7 linked regions of the Homo sapiens genome follow. The protein of the gene in region 1 purifies or fractionates together with the protein of each later gene. This does not show direct contact. Each region holds a gene or a part of one and is shown in the gene's direction. Other genes may lie near its edges.

Region 1 (3,500 bases):
TGGAATATCAGATTACTTTGGGTTTCTACTAAGATTTCCTTTTAGTATTTTACAAAGCTCTCTGTCATTATCTGTCCTAGTAGTAAACAGCATCATTGATTTCCATCTAGGTCCTATTAGTCATAGGTGGATTATGGTTTGTTGAGTTCTATGGATAAATTATAGCAAAACTGAGTTTGTAATCCTTAAAAAAGGGCAATATGAAACATACAAGTTTGGGAGAGAAATGATAGGAAATATATTTGCTTGAAGTTTCTGGACAGTGATGAATTAGAACAAGTGTCCATGTGTCCTGTGCTGACTTCTGAGTGTTGGACAGTGAGGGATTGTCATTGGATTTTAAATTGACCCAATTTTGGAAGCTTCATAGATCTGTTTCTGTAAACAGATCCAATTTCAACATAGAAGTTAGCAAACATAAATGTGGAAACACAAAGTCCATTAAACTTCCTTCAGACTTAGTTTGTGACTTTGATTAACAGTTAAAATTGCATGCTGGATTATGTTGCCATTTACTGACTGCTGCTAATCCCTTATATACAAGAAAAAAATGTAGGTGTTTTCTCTCTGGGTAAGATGAAAGTAACTCCACTCTATTTTACTTGTGGTAATGTAACAGGATCTCTTATCCCTTGTGAAAGTAGGAGAGGATGTCCCTGGAGAAATGGCACTGCCTGGGATGGGACCATCTTAACTAACTATACTTCTAATGAAGTCTTGTCTTACTCTGTTTATTCTATTATATTACCAGTTTAACTCATGACTTTCTCTTTAATAGAAATAGGCAAGTCATATCTCACTGACTGGATAGCAAGGTGTTTGAGAGCATCTGTCACACCAAAGTCTTTGTTTTGCTCAGGAGCTGGTAGTCCCCTATTTCACCCTGCTTAGAATGCACCCTCTTGCAGCTTTCCCCAACCCGGTCTGAACCTGCACCTTTTGATTTATAGAGCTTGTCAAGACTAGTTATTTTTGGTTTGAGAGTGAAGAAAGATGGGAGGCAATGGGAGGTTAATTTCAGATGAATGTGGGAACAGGTTACATTGCTTTGTCTGCAATCTTCCTAATTTGTATTTGTCTTCCCCTTCCATTTATCTCTTACCCTAGAAAAAGTCAACGTTCATTCTTAGCTTGTAGAACTCCGCAGGTCTGTCTGTATCTTTTAAGTATTTTTTACATCAGGAAACCATCTCTGATCCTCTTTTATGCTGTTCTCCTTCTCTGCACTTCCAGAGCGCTCTCTGTTAATGCCCTCTTGCAGCAAGGATAGCCCTATATTGTAATTGTTTGCATTCCCCCATTCAATTGTGCGTTCTTGGAGGGAAGAGATTTTTTTTTGTTGTTGTTGTTTGAGAAGGAGTCTCGCTCTGTCCCAGGCTGGAGTGCAGCGGTGCAATCTCGGCTCACTGCAGCCTCCACCTCCTGGGTTCAAGCTATTTTCCTGCCTCAGCCTCCCGAGTAGCTGGGATTAAAGGCACGTACCCACCACGCCCGCTAATTTTTGTATTTTTAGTAGAGACGGGTTTCACCATGTTGGCCTGGCTGATCTCGAACTCCTGACTTCGTGATCCGCCTGCCTTGGCCTCCCAAAGTACTGGGATTACAGGCATAAGTCACTGTGCCCGGCCGAGATTTTATATCTCTATCTCTGTCTGTCTGTCTGTCTGTCTGTCTATCTATCTATCTATCTATCGTTTTAGTCTTCGCTTTTTGGAAACAAAAATGGGCTATAAGACACGATGGATGGCATTGAATAGGCAGTTTTTAGAGGAACCTAATTGGTTCATAGCATACAGGATAGGCTTTTTCCTTGGGTCTTTGTAGGAATATTGGTCATTAATAGCTATTTTTCCATGCAGAATATTTCTAGTTTTGCAAGAATCTGAAGCTGTGGTAGATTCAGATAATTTTGAAATGTGAAGCTGATTCTCTTGCTTGGCAACTTGATTTGTTTGGGGGAATGTGGTTGACGCATGTGCCTTTTTTTTTTTTTTTTTTTTGGTGAGACCTGTTGACAGAAATTCAATCTTGATTAAGGGACGCAGGAAGGCATCCAGTTCCCACCATGCCTGGGGCTCTCTCATTTAAACAGCTGCCTTTGGCTCTGGCCTGTTCCATTTCCCACTAGGCCCTGTGGACTTTAATTTTGGAAGATTTCACATCCTCATATTTATTATTTCTGGGGGAGGTAGTGTCGTGAAACCGAAATTACCCAGTAGTTAGCTTTTCGTTTTCTTGATGTACTTGTCCTATCAGCCTTAATTGAAGAGAGTCAGACTTCTCAATGGATATGTATTTATTTATTCTCTTTTTCCAGGGAGAGGGGATGGTCTCCTGAGTTGGCCATTCTAGACCAAAATATAGCTTAAAAGAAGCTTTTTTAAAGAACAGGTCATGTTAGGAAAATAATATTTTGTTTTTAAAATTTCACCTAAAGATTAAGTGTACTTAGGTTTGCACCCCTCGCCGTTTGTTCCCCACTAATCAAATGTAGTCTTAGACCTCAGAGGACAGCCTTTCTTCTGCTGCTTGAACCCTCTTCATAGTCTCTTTACTCTAGAATATCACTGAGGTTTTCACTAACCACCATCTTATATAGAGGAAAAACTTCATATGGAAAAGTATACTTAAAAAAAGAGGAATCAATGGATTTTTTAAAAAATTTATGGGAAGATTCAGATCAGAGCTTTCCAAATATATTTATAACAGGATTTGTAATTTGCTAAAGTTTTCTTTATGAGCATATCAGGGATGCTTAGTTTTCATAAAGGGCAGGATTTGTCTTTGTTGAACAGGATCTTATGATTTGATTACCTACCTCCTTTTTGAAGCAATGTTTATAGGAAAACTTGTGCATTAGAGAGACCCCAGATTTTGGAATCCTGCAGACTTGTTCTTTTAAAACTCAACACTGCTATGTATTAGTTTGGTGATCTTGGAATAGTGTAACTTCTCTGAGCTTGTTTCCTTGTTTATAAAATGGTGATGGTAGCATTTATTTATAAAGACATCTATCTATTGTCTATATTGTTAATGCAGTTTAAACGAGATGATTTATGTGAAGTGTCTGGTAAGGTGCCTGGCCTACAGTAGACAGTATTTGGAAGTTATTATCTCTTGCTCCATGACATTTGTTATTTATCTATTTAAATGTGAATTTTTTTTTTTTTTTTTGAGACAGAGTCTTGCTTTGTTGCCCAGGCTGGAGTGCAGTGGCGCGATCTCGGCTCACTGCAACCTCCGCCTCCTGGGTTCACGCCATTCTCCTGCCTCAGCCTCCCGAGTAGCTGGGACTACAGGCATCCACCACCACGCCTGGCTAATTTTTTTGTATTTTTAGTAGAGACGGGGTTTCACTGTGTTAGCCAGGATGGTCTCAATCTCTTGACCTCATGATCCACCCGCCTCGGCCTCCCAAAGTGCTGGGATTACAGGCGTGAGCCACCGCGCCCAGCTTAAATGTCTATTTTTAAATAAATAGGCAGTGGATAAGAACACCA
Region 2 (3,500 bases), on another chromosome or scaffold:
TCGTGCTTCTGAGCCTGGGAAGAAGAGGGTAAGAGACTTTGTCAATAACTGCCAACAAATGAAGGGCCCATTTAGGCATCTGGTTTTAGGAAGTTACAGGCAGATGATCACATGGATGCTATTTTTAGAATGATTTAGTTTACGCTATGTCATGTATCCCAAGAAGGAGTCATACCTTATAAATTATCTCATCAAAATGTACAAGTAGCTTAAAAAATTGGAGAACAGAACCTCACATGGCTAGCACGTTGTCAACCTTAAAGGCATTGGGAGTGGCCAGTCACTTGTGCTATTTTGTCATGGGGCAAAAAAAGCCAGGTACAGAGTAGGGTATTGAAGAGAACCTGTGGAACTTCTTAATGGATGGGATGTGGAGGGTCCAAAGGTAGATCAAGGGTGACCCCTTGGTACTCTGGCCATGAGCACTGCATGTGTGTAGTACCATTTAGTGAGAGAGAAAACTGGGGGAGTCATAGGTCATAATTTTTGGAACTGAGAGAAATGATTTAAGTTCTGTGAGAGAAATTCTAATTTTTCTTCTAATTAAGTTAGAAATATAAGTGAAAATGTCAAAATGACTGTTGGATTTATTAGTATAAAACTCACCAGAGAGATCAGACTGAACTAACAAATTTCAGGAAATGGTATTTAAAACCGTGGGACTGAATGATCTTGCCCAAGGAAAAAGTATAAATGGAAAAGGTAATAGGACGCCAGACCTCCAAAATTTAGTTCAGATAGAGGTGTTTCAAGAAGGAAAGAGTATAGTCAGTTTTTAAATGATGCAGAAAAGACAAGTAAGTTTGGAACAGATAAATGGCTGCTAGATGTTGGCAACATGGAGGTCACTGATGATTGTAGTTTGTCATCAGTCTACAGTGATGAGGCAGCAGAAACCAGTTTGGAGCAGATTAAAGAATGAATAAGAAATGATGAAGTACAGTACAGCATATATAGGCAACTTTTTGAAGTTTTGCTGTGAAAGGGAATAGAGAAATGAAGCTAGGATATTAGATAGGTCTTTACATAAATGTTGAATTCGATAGTGATAGATGTGTATATCCTTTAAAACAAAATAAAGCAAAGGGATCGTATTATATATACTGTTGTGTAGAAGTCTTTTTCAGCTAATCCATCTTGATCTTTCTATATAAGCATATACAGAACTACCATTCTTTTTAAAGGGCTACTTGGTGTCCCATTGTTTGGTTGTACAATCAGTTATTTAACTAGTCCCTTTGTGTTAGTCCGTTTGCGTTGCTATAAAGGAATACGTGAGATTGGGTAATTCATGAAGATAAAAGGTTTATTTTGGCTCACTGTCCTGCAGGCTGTACAAGAAGCATGGTGCTAGCATCAGCTCCTGGTGAGGCCTCAGAAAGTCTTCAATTATGGTGGAAGACAAGGGGGGAGCCAGCATGTGACGTGGCGAGAGAGGAACCAAGGGGAGGGGGTCCCAACTCCTTTTAACAACCAGATCTCACATGAACTCAGAGTGTGAACTCGCTCATTACCGTCAGGAGGGCACCAAGACATTCACGAGGATCCTCCTCCATGACCCAAACACCTTCAGTATCGGGGATTACAATTCAACATGAGATTTGAAGGGGACAAACATCCAAACCATAATGTCTTTACTGATGGATGCTTACAGTGTTTCCATTTATTGCCAGTACAGATGTGAAGGTTGTGGTGTGTATGTCTCTCTTTACACGCTTACATGCAAATAATTGCCTGTTTTTCTACAGCAGTGCTGTAATCAAACTCTTTAACTTTTGACAATCTGATAGGTGAAAAAAATAGTATCTCATTTTTCATTTATTTACTAAGAATGAGGTTGTGCATCATTTATCTTTATGCATCATTTCTTTGTATTTCTTTCTTAACGAATTTTCTCAGTGCCTTAATGTGCTTAGTGTACTTAGTAATGGGCACCATTACAAAGAATCCAGGTTTCAAAGCTTTTTAAAATACTGCAGATACTCCAAAGCCTGCCCTTGTCTGTGTAGCTTCAAAGGATGGGTAAGGGAGAGCCCACTGCCATTTGCACCCAGCCTCACCAAAGGACTGCTTATAGTGATACCTCTTACTCCAGTTTTAAGGCTGGAGCCAACAGAGGCAGAAGTGGCCCTTCCTTGCAAATAATAAAGTGTAGTTCTGGTAACAATTAGTAATCTAAAATGAGAAATATTTTCTCTGTTTTTACTCAGGTAACTATCACTGTCTTCACTGAGGAGTATGTAATCCCATGCAGTTTATTTTATTAGGTTGGGTGACCAAAGAGAACTGAGTGGTGCACATTCTAGTTCTTTAAAGTTGCTCCTCTTTAAGTCTCCTCCCCTGCCTTATACCTTGACTTCAGATAGTTTTTAACTCTTGAACCACTCACCAAAACCAACATTAGAGCACAGGAGATCCTACAGGTAGCAAAGAATACAGAATGCTGTACATTACTCATTCCTTCTTGGGTTTCTTTGTTTCTGTGATTCAGCTTGTTACAGATATCAGATGGGTTCTTGGGATTAACTTCCTCTATAACAAAAACGTGGTTCTGTAGAGTTGGTTATATTAGAATTTTGCCTAAATGGCTAGGCTTTAAAATATAATTTACTTTTAAAATATTTGCTTGCTTGGGTATAAAATGGTAGCTTACTTGGACTTTAATTTGTATTTCTTTGATGACTATGGAAGGTGAACCTTTCCCTTGTTTGTTTGCTGAATTTGTATATTTTAGAAATACTTATAGTTACAGTGGATGAAATATAAGTACCTCAAACCTTTGAGGGCTAGTTAAGATTTTTCTGTATTATAACAAATTTATTTTTACAGGAAAAAACAACAGCAAAAATGTCGTAAGTCTCAAAAGTACCTCTAGGAAAATTAAAAGGGACACTGATATTCAAGAAGCCATTTCAAGCTGAAAGTCATTATTCTGCTCCTTGTATGTTTAGTGGTTCGGTAATCATTTATTCATTCCATATGTTGAATGTCTTTGTACGAAGTCTATGAATGAGTCCTCTTAAGGAGCTGACATCCAGTGGAGGAATTCAACATGTAAATAAATAATTTTACTATAGCATCAGTATAAATTAGAGATATTAACAAAATACAATAGTTTCCAAAATATTTTAATTCCAACTTCATTTGTTTTTTGTTTTTTTGTTTTTTATTTTTGAGACAGAGTCTCACTCTGTTGCCCAGCCTGGAGTGCAGTGGTGATTTTGGCTCACTGCAACCTCTGCCTCCCAGGTTCAAGCCATTCTCATGCCTCAGCCTCCTGAGTAGCTGGGATTACAGGCACCCACCACCACGTCCGGCTAATTTTGTTTGTATTTTTAGTAGAGACGGGGTTTCGCCATGTTGGCCAGGCTGGTCTCAAACTCCTGACCTCAGGTGATCTGTCTGCTGCAGCCTCCCAAAGTGCTGGGATTACAGGCGTGAGCCACTGTGCCTGGCCTAATTCCAATGTTAAAATCTTGAACATTTATTCGCAAACATAC
Region 3 (3,500 bases), on another chromosome or scaffold:
CAGGCACATATCATATGATTTAAAGGTACAAGGCTATCCCAGCCTGGCTGTAGCAGTTTGCTTATGCAGGGTGGAGTAGTTACACACAAAAGTGAGCCAGTAGGTTAAGTATATAGCTTTAGAAGTTAAACATCTTAGATAACTTGCCATATTACTAGGAAACCACAAGAAGTTTGACCAGAGGAATAAAAAGGAAAAGACACCACCAGGTATGGAGAAGCTGAGTTAGGAGACCCTATGAGGTGGTGCCCTCTAAAGAGGAGCAGTAGACAGTGACAGGAAAGAATGATTCAAGGACCCTTGAGACATACCTTGACTAGGTAACAGGTAAGAAAGTGAGGCAAAACTATCATGGGCTTCACGCCTCAGAACATATGGTCTTGTCATTAACAGAAAATAGGAAATCAGCAACATGATGGGGGAAATAGGATTAACTCATTTTTTTAACAGAGGAGGTCATGAGCGCAAGAGAGAGGTCAGGACTGCCAGGTAGATTTGGGAGTCCCCATTATAAAGGAAGAGATAGTCAAGTATCTTATTACAGTGAGATTAAGGAGATGCAGTCCAGTACAAGACCTTAGGATTTGGCCATCAGGAGATCATTTATTATTTGAAAATGAAAACCAGGTTGCCACAGCTTAAAGTTGAGGCACCCAATCTGGGGGCTCAGATGTATAATTGGTCACAAAGGTAGTATTGGAGAGATTTTAAAAAGCCTAACAGAAGTCTTACGTAGAGCTAAATAAACAAAATGTATGTTTCTTTTTTCCTGAAATCATACCAATCTAATGTTGGATTTTATGCAGACTAGAAGTTCTAGTGTGCATTAAAGATGGATTTAATCGATTTTAAATGGGAAAGTACATTATTCCTTATTCTTAACATCTTCAGCCCTATGGAAGCATTCATTTCAGTGTTCCTGGGAACGCACTTTGGCAAATGTGTGAGATAAAGATGTAAGGTTGCCTAGCACCAAGCTCTGTGATAGGCAGAATCAGGCTTTTAGTCGCATGATGTCCAAATAACTGCAACACTCATGGGTTACAGAGTGTTTTCGTGTACATTGCCTCAGCTGGTCTTCTCAGCGCTCATTGTAACATCTCCCAGCTACCTCTCATTCAGGAAATAATTAGGCAGTCTCCTTTTAACTTTGCATAGTCCTAGCCATTAAGAGTTGCTTTAGGATTGATCTGGAAGAATTTGGCACTTTCTTTTCTTCAGCTTCTATTAAGAAAATTTAAATCTTGCTTTTAAAAATAAAATCCATTAGTAAAATCACCTTAGAAGGTGTTTGTGCCATGTCTATGTCTATGGATTTTTTTATATGATTGTGTCACATCTGTGACAATTCAGTTACCCAAAGAGTAATGATGCAAATATGCATAATAAATATTTGAGGCTTGAAGTGGATTTTTGACACAGACATATTTCTGACTCTTGTGTTTCATTATGTACATTTCAGTGAGTTGCTTATTGTAATCTAAGTATCATTAACTAAAAATATGAAAAGCTCATTGCTAAAAACATTTGGAGTATTTGTCAGTGTCCTGTGCTGCTTGAGAGCTTTGAACCTAGACTGCTATCCATGAACTGTGTGTGTACTTCATGTTTTTTAAAGGTGTATGTCGATGTGTGTTGAGAAATTTCTCTTGAAGTAAACAAAAATCATGAGCAACATTAACCTGCAAAGTTAATTGAACACTTTTTTAAGAGGGCCATTCTCTTTGCCTTCCATACTAGAAAGTTCCTAGAAATTTAAAACACATTTTAAAAGATAAGAGACAGAAAAACAGATACCAAAAAAGAACTGGGGAGGAAGAGTTTCACACATAAAAAACATCAAATTTAAAACAGCATTTGTTAATCATCTGAGCTAATTGGATATGCTGAAACGTGATGCCGATCAGTACCCTCTGCTGAATAGTTTGGGTAGAGCCTGTCCGAGATGGAACAAGTGCCACCAGTGGAATTGGTTCCCACCTTGACATTGAACTCCATTTGCAAAGCCTGTCTTCCTATTGGCTTTTGGTATCATTTCGAGGGTCCCCATTCCCCAGCAGCTGCTACCTTTGAGAGTCCTAGAGGCAAAGATCAGTCTGCTCTGAACACTGAGGAGATTTTGGCATCTTCCACATTAAGGGGAACCAGCCAAGTTTTGCTGTAACCTAACTATTAAGAAGGCCCTTTCAAAGATATAAATGTTTTGTAGCTGAGCCCCTGTTTAAGGAGTCTCCCCCATGTCCTCCCCTCCTCTGTTCCAGGACCGGCCACAGGCCATTAGCAAAGGAGAGCCAGAGAAGAAAACTTTGACTCTGACTTTCCCCCTAAATCTCCCAGACTCTCAGAGGTGATATTCTGCGCTGGGCTTTGGAGATACGGGAGAAGTGGGCTATGTTCCTGTTAGAAGGCACTACAACCCCAAGGCAAGAAAGGAATGGAGGACAGAGCCCAGGCACTTGAAGCCAAGAATTTGGAGCCAGAGAAGGAACAAAAGTCATGTTGGTCCCTACTTCGAATGCAGAGGATGATTTGAGAGTATTTATTCTCCCTTGTTCATTCCCATGCAGTTGAAGCTAAAACTCTTTGTGATGAATGTTGAGCCTCTGTCCTATAGAGGACCTCCCCTGCTTAACTGCGAGTTCCTCAATGTAACTGTGTCTCCTAGGTCGTATAAGAAGGCATTGATTATTTATTTTACAATTAGGAATTTAGGCAAAGCCCTTAGATTCAGAGATGCATTGACTTTTGAATTGTGACTTTAAAAATAATAATAATTGATCTTTTTCACAAATGTGTATATCCTAGATGATGCCAAAGATCCCAAATCACTAAGGGCATCCAGTTCATTGGCGGTGCAAGGAGGAAAAATTAAGCGGAAGTTTGTGGATCTGGGGTAAGCACTTCACGATGTAAAAAGAAAGCCCTCTGTAAAAGGAGGATTGAAAGAGAAAATTTCAGCTTCCCCTTTCTGACTGCTTACTATCATTACAGGGCGCCTTTGCGAAGGAATTCCAGCAAGGGAAAGAAGTGGAAAGAAAAAGAAAAAGAAGCCAGTAGGTTTTCTGCAGGTAGCAGGTACGGTTGTGTGATTAAGAACACGTGTATTTCTATACCTAAACTTTCTGGCCCCCTCTTCTATTGTTAACCAAAATCAGTGGTCAGTATCTTTGAGCTAAAGTGATATGCCAAGAATTGAGATGGAAGAAAAATTGCACAATTAGTTTATATTGGTCTTACTCCAATTATAGCCTCCATCTAGCCTTGGGCATATCCATTGGTTCTTAATTGCAGAATTATGGCCACATGAACCATTTCAATAAGTGTTTATCTAAATTCAGCACAAATATATCTATGTGATACTTCAGAAATATCAAATATATTTATGTGATACTTCAGATTTTTTGCCTGGCTACCCACAATGCTAGTGCATTGTATTAAGTCTAAAAGGATAATCATTTTGCATTTAAGTACCTTGTTGACATTCAAGATTGTCTTGTCCA
Region 4 (2,284 bases), on another chromosome or scaffold:
TCTCACCAAAAACAAAGTTAACTGCCATTCAAGGGAGTAGTTTATGTGCTATTATTTAATAGTATGTTAGTGATGTGTTTGAAGACTTCTACAGAAGGCCTTTTCTTTTTTCTTTTTTTTTTTTTTGAGACGGAGTCTCGCTCTGGAGTGCAGTGGCACAATCTTGGTTCACTGCAAGCTCCGCCTCCCGGGTTCATGCCATTCTCCTGTCTCAGCCTCCTGAGTAGCTAGGACTACAGGCACGCGCCACCATGCGCGGCTAATTTTTTGTATTTTTAGTAGAGACAGGGTTTCACCATGTTAGCCAAGATGGTCTCAATCTCCTGACCTCGTGATCGCCTGCCTCGGCCTCCCAAAGTGCTGGGATTACAGGTGTGAGCCACCATGCCCCGCCCAGAAGGCCATTTCTTTTTCTTTTTCCCAAAAAAGGGAAGCAGTGACTATCTGAGAATGGGAGAACTTCCATTACCTGTTTTTGAGAATATGTTTAAAGGACAAACGATGAAAATGAGTTACCAAAATAAGAAAACACTTGCTCATATTAAAAAATTATTGTAAAAAATGTTTTAAAAAATAATTTCTGATGTAGCTGGAATTAAGAGATTTTGTGTATTTTCCAAGTTAAAGAATTAATCTATAGTAGAGCTCTTTTCTTAAGTAAAAAGTGTTCTGATATACTTTATTATAACATGACATCTATCATTTTGGATATAGAGCAGAGCTACTACCACCACCACCATTTCCCGTGAAATATTCTTCTCTTTGAAATACTTGAAGTCATGCATGAAATTCTAAGAGCTCTTTATTTTTCAATTAGAATATACAAATGGCTCTTTTTTTCTGTCTTTGGGTAGATGTTGCAGTAGAATCACTTTTAGAAATTTTATTAACTGTGGAAGGTTTTTAAACTTAGTAAAGGACCCTATTAGGTAAATATGATAAGAAGCAATTAAATAAGTAAAGTTGATTTCTTGGTACTAGCTTCCTTTTACCTATTGTCATCGTGAAAATATTTTTTTAAATAGGTGTTTTTCTAGTGAAAGAAAATGCTTTGATTTTTCTGAGAAAGTTTTCTTTAAGATGAGTTCCCATAACTTGCTTATATTTTGTATATTTTATTTCTAGGGAAGTGAATCGTATTAAACACAGCAAGCCTGGATCTGTGCCACTTGTGTCAGAGAAGAAGAAACACGTAGTGGCAGTTGTAAAATAATTGGTATTCCTAACAATCCTGATGTATAATTATTTGTTACTTTTGATTTGAGAACTCTACAAATAAAAGTGCTGGGACTAGATTAATTGCAAACATTTTAGTTATATGTGTAGAGCTTTATTGTTACTCCTTTTAGCTACCCTGAAAAATGATCCTTAAAGGTGGCCTAGTTGGTAAGACTGTTTTATCCTTAATCTGCATTCTTCTTTCATTGTAGAATACAGTATTTGCAACTCATTTTTTCTTGTTTTTATTACAGATATACTTACTTTCTCTTTGATCTATTATTGTAGACACTATACATTCAAATTGACATTTAAGACCAAACATCTCTTATGTTATCTTTAATATTACTTTGAATAATGATTGCAATGATGTTTCTTCCTGTGATTCCACATAACATTTAGAATAATGATGTCAATTTTTTACAACTGAATTTATTTCTAGTGCTTTACTTATATTTGGCTTTTTGACTCTTTTAAAACAATCAGCCTGCATTTATATAACTTTTATAAATAATAATATAATTTGGGTCAAGTTAAGATATTAAAAGTTCCTTTCAGCATTGAAACTTTGGCCTATTTTTGGTAAATAATTTTCAATCTCACTAAATCCTAAATAGCTCTGTGTAACATAGGTTTTTCTTTTTTTAATCATCAACTTAATAAACTTTATTATAAATATGTATAAATCCAAATTTTAGGAGATGTTAAGTAAAGAAGAGATTTTAAAATCCAAAGAAAAGAATGTGTTAAGAATACAGTCATCACTCTGTATCTGTGGGAGATTGATTTCAAGATGTACCATTGATGCCAAAATCCAAGGATGCCCAAGTCCTTGATATTAAATGGCATAGTATATGGATATAACCTCTGCATATCCTCCCAAATACTTAAAATCATCTCTAGATTACTTATAATACCTAATACAATGTAAATGCTAAATAAATAGTTGTTATACTGTATTGTTTAGGGAATAATGATGAGAAAAAAAGAGTCTGTACATGTTCAGTACAGATGCAATTTCTTTTTTCCAAATGCTTTTGAGCCACAGTTGGTTGAGTCTATGGGC
Region 5 (3,500 bases), on another chromosome or scaffold:
TGACGCCAGGGTTGCCAGGAGCAGCTGCCTTACTGAGGGGATGGTTTCCGGATTAACGTGTGAATGGAGGGAGCAGCGTGCCTGGGGAATGAAAGCAGGTGTCAGCGCGGGGAGCTAGCCAAAGGCATTTCCTCACATGTGCATTTAGGAGCATAGGTGGCCTTCGTGGGCCGTGTGAGCAAAGGGATGACTGGTTGCCGCTAGAGAGGAGACTGTTCCCAACCTGCACATTTTGAAGTTAAGGAGGACATTAATTTGTCTAGAGAGTATTCATATCTGGTGCCTTTGAATGTCCTCATGCCATTCGCTTTCCATCTGTCTTTGGATGCGTGTTGTGGCTTTGCCTGGTTCTTTTAAATTGCATATTGTGCAGACAACTTTTTGTATCAGAAAAATCTAGAAAACAGCATGGTTGGAAGTGAGCAGAGGCAAGGCTGCATCTTGCCGGGGGAAGGGCTCTTGTGGCTGCATTGTGGACTCATGGACCAGCCTGTGGCCGGCCATGCTCACTCCGGGGCAATGTGTCTCCACAGCGACCGTGGCAGCCATGTATTACAGCTACTACATGCTACCGGACGGCACTTACTGCCTGGCGCCGCCCCCTCCCGGAATCGACGTGACTACTTACTACAGCACCCTTCCTGCTGGCGTGACCGTGTCTAACTCCCCTGGAGTGACGACCACCGCCCCACCACCTCCTGGGACCACACCACTACCGCCCCCAACCACAGCAGAGACTAGCAGCGGGGCCACCTCCACAACCACCACCACAAGGTAGGTGCAGCGTCCACCGCTGCCTGCTGTGTGAGTCACTCAGCACTGCAGTCACTGGGGCCGTCTGTGTCTCCATGGGGGGCTTGTAATCTAGATCATATACAGGGGTCCCCATTGTCTGAGTAGTTATTATTCCAAATCCCCAAGTTACAAAGTTGACAGGAAAACAGAAATGGTTGTAGCACAAACTTTTTAGCATTGAAGTTAAACCACTTATAAAGTTGAATTCATTTCACGTCGCACGCTGGCCCCAGATCTCCAGCATCTGTTCTTGCGCTTTGTGTCAGAGTCTCAGTTGAGCTGTGCTAGGCAAAATCAGTATGCAGTGAAGCTGCAGTTGTTTGCAAAACATGCAGGTTCATAAAGTTGACGCAGGTGATGTTGGGGTGCTTCATGAGTCTCTCCCAAGCTGTTGGCCACCAGGGGACCCTGGCAGCTACTTTAGTTAACCTGTGAAGCCATCGGCAGAGCCCTAGCTTCTCCAGCAGCGAGGGCCCCCAGTGTTCAGGGGACGAGTATGAGACAGGCGCTTTACCAGTGGGCCTGGAATGCCCTGCCTTGAAAGGAGACTCCTGGGAAATGGAATGAAACACGCGAGTTTCTGTGAAAACGACTCTTTCTGGTCATGCTGAGCAAGTCAGACAGGAAATGAAGGAGGTTGAACCATGCTTGCCGACTTGTTTTCAATATAACAACAACAACAACAAACTGCTTATTCTTTGTTATTTCTAAGAATTAGCTTGTGATTGGGGGGAAATGTTAATTAGTAGGAAAAATGCACCTTTTATCACTAAAATCCCCATTTTTCACTCTTGACAACAATCCTGTCTAGTTGACTTTAGTTTCTGTCGTGTGCATCACCTTCAACAAGAGCCTCCCCTAACACACTGTTTATAACTCACATGTCTCTCCGGGCATCTGAGGCGGTGAGGACCCCCGAGCAGCCAGGACTGAGCTTGGCGAGCCCCTGAAGCCCAGGGGTCTCACAGACTCTTCTCCTGCAGTGCACTTGCCCCCGTGGCCGCCATCATCCCCCCGCCCCCCGACGTCCAGCCCGTGATTGACAAGCTGGCCGAGTATGTCGCCAGGAACGGCCTGAAGTTCGAGACCAGTGTTCGTGCCAAGAATGATCAAAGGTCAGAAGAAGAATTTTATATGTTAGGTATATGGCATTTGGGGGTTTCGTTTAGCCTTTTTTTAAAAAAATGTAGGTACAGAATTAATTTTTTTATATATTTTTAAGCCTTTTCTTGGCTCAAATGTCTTTTTTTTTTTTTTTTTTTTTTTTGAGATGGAGTCTTGCTCTGTCACCCAGGCTGGAGTGCAGTGGCGCGATCTTGATTGACTGTAACCTCTACCTCCTGGGCTCAAGCAATTCTCCTGTCTCAGCCTCCTGAGTAGCTGGGACTACAGGCGCGCACCACCACGCCTGGTTAATTTTTGTATTTTGGTAGAGACAGGGTTTCACTGTGTTGGCCAGGCTGGTCTCAAACTCCTGACCTCAAGTGATCCACTTGCCTCAGCCTCCCAAAGTGCTAGGATTACAGATGTGAGCCACCACGCCCAACCAATGTCTTTAGATAAATACATTTTTTAATTGGCTTGTTAAATTGCTTAGACTTGGGTGGTGTTTTTAAATTATGTTACCTGTTTTTTGTTTCATTTTTTAAGTAGGAATTTTGAAGCTACCTAAAATAAAAGCCTATAATTCATGGTTTTCAAGAATCTGCCTTAAAAATCTAGACACAAACCCTTCTTTTTAAAAACCAAGCAATGTCCCACGCCTCAGTACTAATAAAACGTAAAGATATGTTGTCACATTTGCAGCGTGACCTGTGTAACCCCGGGCAAGCGATTTCGACCCCCTGTGTGCAGTCTCCCTCGTCTATAAGATGAGTAGCTAAAACAGTAACCACCTTGTGGGATTGTTGAGATCAGTAAAGAGCTAGGAGAACAGGGCCTGTTGTTACTTCAGTGAGCTTGTCTTGGTAAATGACCCATTTTCTTTCTTTTTCTGCTCAGATTTGAGTTCCTGCAGCCGTGGCACCAGTATAATGCTTATTATGAGTTTAAGAAGCAGTTCTTCCTCCAGAAAGAAGGGGGCGATAGCATGCAGGTACGTGTCTGAATGCAGGGAGGCTGTGAAGCTCTTAGAGGTGGCTCCGCCTTCCAGATCAGAAGTCGCTTTCTGTTTCTTCTCCTACAGGTGAAAGGGCTGGGTGATTCTTCACCTTTTTTTAATGTGTGTCTGGCATACTCCATCTTTCACGTCCCCCTTAGCTCTGGAACCTGATCTGTTGAAAGCATCTGCCCACGTTCACAGCATTGATGATTGTTTGTCCAGCACGTTCTAAACAAACAAAAAAAATCCTGTTCCTTCAACTGTTCGATGTTTTGGCCGTCTACAGTTACTAGCTACCTTTCATGACAGCCGGGTACCTTGCTTCTGTTGTGTTAACATGTATGAAATATATAAAATATAAGTGGGCGCCTCATGCCTGGCCAGCTGGTGCTGGGGGTGTCCTGCAGCACGGCCTCTGCCTGTGCCTGCACGCCCTTCCCCCTCACCAGATCCCCAGCGTGGTGCTGGCGCACTTGGAAGTGCTTTTTGTCCTACAGCCCCCTCTTCTGCCTTTGCTCTGCTCTTCTCAGTTATATAGACACCCTGACATTTTTGTAAAGCCAGTTTTGGTGAGGAGATGACATGGGCCTTACTTCTCAGGAGA
Region 6 (3,500 bases), about 14 Mb from region 1:
TGTGGATTTGTTTTTAAGTGGTGTATTCATATAATGTGGTATCATTCAGCCATAAAATGAAATGAAATTCTGATCTGTGGTACAGCATGAAGGACGTTGAAAACATTATGCTAAGTGAAATAAGCCAGACATAAGACAAATATTGTATGATTTCACTTTATGTGAAATATCAAGAATACGCAAATTTATAGAGACAGAAAATAGATTAAAGATTACCAGTGGCTGGGGAGAGGGGAGTTATTTCACGAATACAGAATTTATGTTTGAGGTGATGAAAAATTTTAGATAATGGTGATGGTTGCACAGCATTGTGAATATAATGCCACTGAATTGTATACTTAAAAATTGTTAGGCCAGGCGCAGTGGCTCACGCCTGTAATCCCAGCACTTTGGGAGGCCGAGGTGGGCGGATTGGATTGCCTGAGCTCAAGAGTTCAAGACCAACCTAGGCAACATGGCAAAACTCCATCTCTACTAAAAAAAAAATAATAATAATAATAAAAATTGTTAAAATGGCAAATTATTGTTATATGCGTTTAGATATAATTTTAAAAAGCACAAGGGAGGGACATGTAATGTTTCCTCAAAACTAGTATCAATAATTCCTGCCAGTTATTTTGCATTTAATATATGCCAAAGACCATGCTAAGTGCTTTCTGTACATCATCTCAGTGAGACAGGTTAACTCTATCACAGCCACAGAGCTGATAATGCAGTGAGTCCCAGATATAAACCTCATTTGTCTAATCCCAGAGAATTCTCTAGGTGACTTTTTCAGGATAAGACACAGTTTTATCTTTATGAAAATTTCCTTAACTTTTCAGGAGAGAAGGCTCTTATGACCGATACCTACGAATGGATGACTATTGCAGGAGAAAGGATGACTCTTATTTTGACCGTTACAGAGATAGCTTTGATGGACGGGGCCCTCCAGGCCCAGAAAGTCAGTCTCGTGCAAAAGGTAAAGTAGCTGAAACAGTCTATTCCTATTATTGATAGAACACTTTACAAAAGAGAGAGGAAACTAATAACCAGTACCCCCATCTGAAAAAGGGCTAGTGCCTTGGCCAAGCAGTGTATAAAAAGAAGAAATATAAGTAGCTTATTAGTGGGTAAAGAGCATTTGGCTTGAAAATGATTTTTAAGATGCAAATTAGTACCATCATCTGGTTTAGTCATCCAACAAGAAGAAATAAATATGAAATTCCAGCAATAAGAAATGAACAAAATGCTGGTCACTGTGGCCACCACCTGTAATCCTAGCACTTTGGAAGGCCAAGGCCGGCAGATCACTTGAGCCCAGGAGTTCAAGACCAGCTTAAGCAACATGATAAAACCCCATCTCTACAAAAAAAAATACAAAAATTGTCTTGGTGCAGTGGTGCACACCTGTAGTCCCAGCTACTCGGGGGGCTGAGGCAGGAGGATCGCTGGAGCCTAGGATGTTGAGGTCTCAGCAAGCCATGATTGTGCCACTGCACTCCAGCCTGGGTGACAGAGTGAGACCCTGTCTCAAAAAAAAAAAAGAGAAAAATGAACAAAAGATTGGAGCTGAAGACATTAAGTGCTTGTTTTTTGCCTACTGACCAAGTAACTATGACTGACTATCTGCATTATCTAGGCAAAATAGGTTTTTGGTTTTTTTTATAACTTTTACCTAACAGCATCTCTTTTTTAGATGAAGGCAAACATGTCTTTTTAAAGCCTGGTTTTTCTCAATACATCTTTAAAGGTTCTTAAATTATTTCATACCTGGCCAAGTTGAAATCTTTAAGAATCTCATTTTTAATTTTAATTTTTTAATTTTAAACTTTATACTTGATTTTTTTCTTTTAAAAAAAGAACTTTTAAATTTTTAATTTTAAACTTTACTACTTGATTTTTTCCCCAAAAAAAAAGCAAAAATGCAGATTAGAATAATAATAATATTCTTATCTGTCAAGTTGGCAAGACTTAAAAAGAATGACAGTACTCACTGTTGACTAAGGTGTGGAGAAATAGGCACTAGATGATCTACCTCTGTGGAGGTATAAATTAGTATCAGCCTTCTCAGGGAGCAGCTTGGCAGTAAGTATCAGATGCAGCATTAAAATGGCCACGTCCTTTAATCCAGCATTACATTTTGGTTAATTTATAATAGTAAAAAATATTAATACTGGCTGTTTTTAGGAGATAGACCAGAGGATTGATTCAGAGTATTATGACCTTTGCCTACAAGTAGCTCAGGATTTAAAATGAGGGTCCAGTCCTTATTTCAGTTTACCCTGGTGGTGTTTTGCAGAGCGTTTGAAACGTGAGGAACGGCGTAGAGAAGAGCTTTATCGTCAATATTTTGAGGAAATCCAGAGACGCTTTGATGCCGAAAGGCCCGTTGATTGTTCTGTGATTGTGGTCAACAAACAGACAAAGTAAGAACCCTTAGATATTTCTCCCCAGTAAGGAGAAGAGTCAGAGAAATTCAGGCTCCTGTTTAGCACCTCTATCCACTGAATCTGAGCTGTGTATTCTTGCATTGCTGTGCGCTGTTAGCCAGGGTTCTTTCAGTTATAGGTGACAGAAAACTCAATTCAAATTGAGGCCAAAAGGGACATTTTTCATTTAAGCAAAAATTAACTGGGAAATTGAGGCACAGCCACATCCAGGATCAAACCATGTCATCAAAATTGGTCTCTGTGTTAGTCTCTAAGCACTGTTTTCCTCAGATTTGCCTTTGTTCTCAGGCAGGTTTTGTGCTTGAAGAGGCAGAATGGCACTGGCCCTGAACGTGTGTCTTCTTAGCTTAGCAAGCCAAGTGGAAAGAGAACTTCTCTTTCCCAGTGTTTCCACCTGAAGTTCTGCAGTTCTTTTTAGATTGACCTGACTCACTTTCCCATCCCTGAGCCTGTCACTTTGGCAGGGGTGCTGGGTGTTCTGATTGGCCAGGGCTAAGTCATGTTCCCATCCCAAGAGCTAGAGGTGGGATTAGCCCTGTGGAACCATGCAGACTGAGAGTGGAAGAGGGTGTAGCCGCTGGTCAAGCAGAGTAGTATATACTCCCTTCATGGGACAACCCAAATGCCCAATACTTTGGGAGACACGCCTCTGCATTTGTCAGCCAAGAACCAAGTCTTTGTGAAGTACCATGGCCTTGCAGAACTGTTACATGACCATGTTACCAAGCTAGGGCTTATAGCATTGTTTCACTGCATCCCTGTTTTACATTTTCTCCTTGAAGAGGCAGAGCAGAGAAGCAGAAAGGAGTATAGCAGCTTGCAGGCTTGGCAGTAGCTATGTTCCCTTTCCCTAGGTGGTACTAAGTAAATAACTTCATGTATTTTCTAGCAGTTTGGGGTTAAAGAGCTAATTTCAAGGCAGTGACTAGGGAAATAGGTGTTGAGACACCAAGCAGTAGGCAGAGTTCACAGGCTCTTGGCTGTCTTGTTCAGTGATAGATGCTGCTTTTAACTCTAGAGAGCTTTTTTTGGACACATGATAATAGCTGTTATTTTCTGAGCACCTAC
Region 7 (4,145 bases), on another chromosome or scaffold:
TTGTTTTTATAATTCATCCCAGACATCCCAAGTGAGAATTAAAAAAAAAAATTACTCATTTCTATTTTCCTTTCTCAAAAACACATTACAAAAAGATTGTAAAACAAAGTCTTGAGGGATTGATTAGTCAAGACAGGGGGTGAAACTCTTAAGAATCCAGTGGAATCAGGACAACCCAAACTTCCTTTGTAGAAGAGCATTTGCTATTAAGAGTGCTTAAAATATCAGAAGACTAGAGAGAGGAAAGAACAGATCTTCACCACATGCCTGTGACTTATTCTTCCACCCTGCACTAATCTTACAATGTGGGCTGCGGTTGGTCTAAAGCTTAAATCAACAAGTACTGTAAAGGTTTTAGAACAGTGCAGACCACACAGTAAGGTGCTCAGCAGGTACTGGCTGAATACTGTAATAGTCCCTGTAGATAAAAGCCACAAACCCTGTCCCTAAGTAGCTCCTTTTGGTTGGAGTGACTGACAAGCAACAATTACTTCACAGCGCTTATTAAGGGCTGAGATAGGGGTTAGCTCAAGTGTCTGTGGAAGCAGACCAGTGGGTCTCAAACTTTTTTTGTCTCTGGACCTCTACACAATATTTGTTACCACAAATAATGTATTTATGAAAAGCATATTTTCCAAATTAATAAAAGGGTGATATCTAAAATTTCTGCAGATTTCCTCAATGTCTGGCTTAATAGAAGATGGCTGGATTCTCTTATCTGTTTCTGCATTGAATCAGCTGCTATATGCTGTTTTGGTTGAAGGGTGGGAAGAAAATTTGGCCTTAGACACATGCTCCTGGCAAAGGAATGGAGGCTCTACTGAAAGGTCTTGGCGACCCCTCAGGGAAACCTGGGACCACATTCTGAAGACTGCTTACTGGATACCAAGAATGTTTCTTGGAGGTAGCAATTTGAGTCCTGAGGTAGATCAGCCATGTAGGGTGAGGGTAACGGAGGTAGTTAATGGTAAGGCTGCTGTGCCGAGCCAGCACAGATATTTGGGCAGAGGGCTCATCTACTCCATCCTATTCTACCATTCTTGAACTCACAGTCAATTAATAAAAAGTACCTGGGGTTGGGGAGCTGCGCATCAATATTATATTAACTGTGAAGCCTTAGTGCTTACTACGGTCGAGAAAAAGCGCTCCTCTGATTCGCCCCTCCCGGCGGCGCGGAGGTGTGAGCTAGAAGCCCGCAGGCGGTGCCGCGTCCTCCGAAGACAGGGAGGGGCGCGGCAACGCCGGGAAGCGCTGCAGCCCGGGGCCCCACGGAGGCGCGGCGCTCGAGGCCCTAAAGCGCGCAGGCGCGGCAGCGACGCAGGCCGCGGCCCCCGGAACGGTAAACAGTGGGGTCACGTGACACGGCCCCTCTCCAGCTCCCGCGCCGCCGCCGCACGCCGATGGCTGCGGGGTCTCGCGCCGTCGCACCGTCCCCACGCGGCAAGCGACCTTCGGGCTCAGGGCGGCGGCGGCTGCAACGAGGATTAGGAGGGCGGCGCGGAAGCCAAGAATAGTGTCGTCAGCAGCAGCCATTTGGTCCCAGGAGGAAAAGAGGCTGTGGCAGCGACGCCGACGTCCTGCGCGTACCCCCTCTCCGCGGCACCCACCGGGCCCCCTCCTCCTCCTCTTCGGCGGCGGCAGCGTCCACCATCTTCCTCTTGCTGCCAGTGGTAGCGCTCGTCTGGCGGAGCTGGGTGAGTTGCGGCTGTGGCCGCGGCCAGGGAGACGGGCAATCCTCCCCTCCCCCATCCCCTTCCACACGCACAGCGCCTCCGCGGGCCTCTCCGCCCCTCCCGCGGCGGACTCTCCGCGCTTTTCTCCCGCGCAGCCGAGAGATCGCCTCTCGGGCCTCTTGCGCAACGTCCTCGGCCTACCTGGGCCGCGCCGCTGGCGCCTGTGGACCATTTGGACCGCGGGCTGGGGAGGGAGTCGCAGCGACGCGGTCGCCAGGCGGAGGGTCGGGACCACGGCCTCTCTCCCGACCACTGGTACCCAGCCGTCTGCTGCGAGGGCGCCCCGCCGCCGCTGAGGCGCGGGCGCGCAGGCCCGAGGCACGGCGGGCGCTGCCTGGAAGGCCCGTCTCGCAGGCCCCCGGATCCGGCCGTTGGGGCCTCTTCCTTCTCAGGGAGCCCCAGCATGGAGCTTTGGGCCTTGGTTTCGGGAAACTGGGACTGGCCCTGGCTGCTAGGCTGCTCCCTGCTGCTGCTTTTTGGAGATGAGAGTTGCTCTTCCATTTATCCTCCAGTTACCGCGCGCTTTTGTGCCCGGGACTCAAACTGTGGACTCCTTTTGCTTAGTTTGAAATGAGAAGCCTAGACTCTTGCCTTCCGATAATACATGTAATTTAATGAACCACTTGTCGATACGTACGTGTTAATGGTGCTAAATAACTGATCACCTGACACGGGGGGCGGGGGCGGTGCGGAGAGTAGAAAGGAAGAGAATGTTGATATCGCGCACGGAGTCCTGTGTCCCTCCTTTCCCTCAGGATGTGTTGCCGGGTTAGGTGACCTTTTTCCATCTTTGGGCTTTTAAATGCCAATTCCTAGAGACTAGATTGGGGTGGTTATTAGTGCTTTCCAGTAGTCACGCGTAGAATATGTTCATGGATTAATGTTAAGTGGCAACACTGCTTTAATATTCTAGTCCTAATCTGCATTACATGTAGCGATATTTAATTTAAAAAGAATAATCGATTATTGAGGCTTCTCTAAATACTAACTTTACTATCTTATTTTAAGCTAAATTTAAAAACCAATGCAGTAAACTCTGTAGGGAGTACTTAAACAGTACGTTGTTGTATTTAGTTACTATTTTGGGGTCGAACTTGTCTTCCCTTTGACAAAATGATTGTTAAAGGCCTAACAAAACTACGCCTCCATTATTCATTTTTCGATTCCTGAATGAAGTGTTTGGAACTGTGAAAATATTTGTAGAAAAAGATGTATGTTTGTGTTAGAGCGACATGTTGAGTCAAAGCACCAGAAACTTTTCTATTGTAGCATACTTATGTTTTTGAATTTATAGCTCCCTTCCACAGCACAAAAAGGTGTTGTGTAAAGATTATTGTTATTTTAAATAGTAATTTTAAAGTTTAGTTATCACTTAGACCTTTTCCCCACTAATTTTTCTCTTCATTCATCTGTTTACTGGCTATATATTACCATAATGATTCTTTCCTTCATCATCGTCATTATCACTGTTATTATTATTTTACAATACATACTTCATTTTCTGGTGATAGTAGCAGAGTTTAGTGGCAGACTTTTAGGAGTGATGATTCCTCTGATTGAGCCACACAATCAGTCCCGAAACGGGCTACTTTTATGTAAAAAGATTACAACTTTAGATTTTAAGCTTTTTCAGATAGCTGTACTCGGTAATTTGTCAAAATGATAAAAATGAGCCAGTGATGGGACCAAAGTTTGCCTCTTATTTACATTTTTTATAGGTTCATTTATTGAAGAATAGAAAAATATAGTTTATTTTACTGCTTTTGCATACACGTGAATTATGCATTCTCTCTTGTTGGGATAGACTTCAGATAACTTTATCATGTTGATCTTATGGTATACTTATATGTTGCATAATCAGAAAAGTCACCTCTGAGAAGTGGTCTATGTAAATGTAGGTAAAAAATTGGTTTGGTCAGATGCACATTTCAAGATAGAAAAATCGAAAGGAATTTGTCTTTAATCATTTCAAACTATGTTATTAAAATTTAAATTTTATTGAGTATTGGAATCCACTAGGAAAGTTGACAGTCTTTGACTTATGTAATGTATTACTTATAAAAGTTGGGAGGCAGCAAGTGGCAATTTGGAGTATTGCAAAATCAAGAGCTTAGATTTTTTTCATAGTATAAGGCCTACTTGGAAAAACTGGTGAATGAAAATTATACATACAATTCTGTGTTTCAGTTACTGAAATAGATGATGTTTATCTTCCTTAACATGGTGGGATGGTGTTTGCTTTTTTGATACATTTTGCCTTCTTAAGATCCATTTAAATTTCTCATAAAATCCTTTTTACATATGTTTTTTCTGGAGATAATAACTTTTCTGTTTTTTAGTGAGATAATGAGATTTTTTGGTCAACATTTAGGTTTGTGTATTACCAATACATATTTCACCACACAGTGTCAA

Evidence for each region.
Region 2: the proteins of TPX2 (region 1) and YLPM1 purify together in Homo sapiens (affinity purification with mass spectrometry; one large-scale study listed by BioGRID and IntAct). This does not show direct contact.
Region 3: the proteins of TPX2 (region 1) and PPP1R9A purify together in Homo sapiens (affinity purification with mass spectrometry; one large-scale study listed by BioGRID and IntAct). This does not show direct contact.
Region 4: the proteins of TPX2 (region 1) and DCAF13 purify together in Homo sapiens (affinity purification with mass spectrometry; one large-scale study listed by BioGRID and IntAct). This does not show direct contact.
Region 5: the proteins of TPX2 (region 1) and SFSWAP purify together in Homo sapiens (affinity purification with mass spectrometry; one large-scale study listed by BioGRID and IntAct). This does not show direct contact.
Region 6: the proteins of TPX2 (region 1) and NCOA5 purify together in Homo sapiens (affinity purification with mass spectrometry; one large-scale study listed by BioGRID and IntAct). This does not show direct contact.
Region 7: the proteins of TPX2 (region 1) and PHF3 purify together in Homo sapiens (affinity purification with mass spectrometry; one large-scale study listed by BioGRID and IntAct). This does not show direct contact.

What each region holds. Positions count from the first base shown.
Region 1 is NC_000020.11:31,745,790-31,749,289, forward strand, and holds part of TPX2 (targeting protein for Xklp2), read left to right. Parts: intron 1-3,500. UniProt on the Homo sapiens protein: Spindle assembly factor required for normal assembly of mitotic spindles. Required for normal assembly of microtubules during apoptosis. Required for chromatin and/or kinetochore dependent microtubule nucleation.
Region 2 is NC_000014.9:74,829,316-74,832,815, forward strand, and holds part of YLPM1 (YLP motif-containing protein 1), read left to right. Parts: coding exon 1-28; intron 29-3,500. UniProt on the Homo sapiens protein: Plays a role in the reduction of telomerase activity during differentiation of embryonic stem cells by binding to the core promoter of TERT and controlling its down-regulation.
Region 3 is NC_000007.14:95,271,094-95,274,593, forward strand, and holds part of PPP1R9A (neurabin-1), read left to right. Parts: intron 1-2,805; coding exon 2,806-2,893; intron 2,894-2,991; coding exon 2,992-3,075; intron 3,076-3,500. UniProt on the Homo sapiens protein: Binds to actin filaments (F-actin) and shows cross-linking activity. Binds along the sides of the F-actin. May be involved in neurite formation. Inhibits protein phosphatase 1-alpha activity.
Region 4 is NC_000008.11:103,441,670-103,443,953, forward strand, and holds the end of DCAF13 (DDB1- and CUL4-associated factor 13), read left to right. Parts: intron 1-1,125; coding exon 1,126-1,213; 3' UTR 1,214-1,784; downstream 1,785-2,284. UniProt on the Homo sapiens protein: Part of the small subunit (SSU) processome, first precursor of the small eukaryotic ribosomal subunit.
Region 5 is NC_000012.12:131,752,590-131,756,089, forward strand, and holds part of SFSWAP (splicing factor, suppressor of white-apricot homolog), read left to right. Parts: intron 1-533; coding exon 534-774; intron 775-1,778; coding exon 1,779-1,910; intron 1,911-2,796; coding exon 2,797-2,890; intron 2,891-3,500.
Region 6 is NC_000020.11:46,065,963-46,069,462, reverse strand, and holds part of NCOA5 (nuclear receptor coactivator 5), read left to right. Parts: intron 1-824; coding exon 825-961; intron 962-2,281; coding exon 2,282-2,408; intron 2,409-3,500. UniProt on the Homo sapiens protein: Nuclear receptor coregulator that can have both coactivator and corepressor functions.
Region 7 is NC_000006.12:63,634,457-63,638,601, forward strand, and holds the start of PHF3 (PHD finger protein 3), read left to right. Parts: upstream 1-1,345; 5' UTR 1,346-1,694; exon of another isoform or gene 1,695-2,337; coding exon of another isoform or gene 2,338-2,339; exon of another isoform or gene 2,340-2,366; intron 2,367-4,145.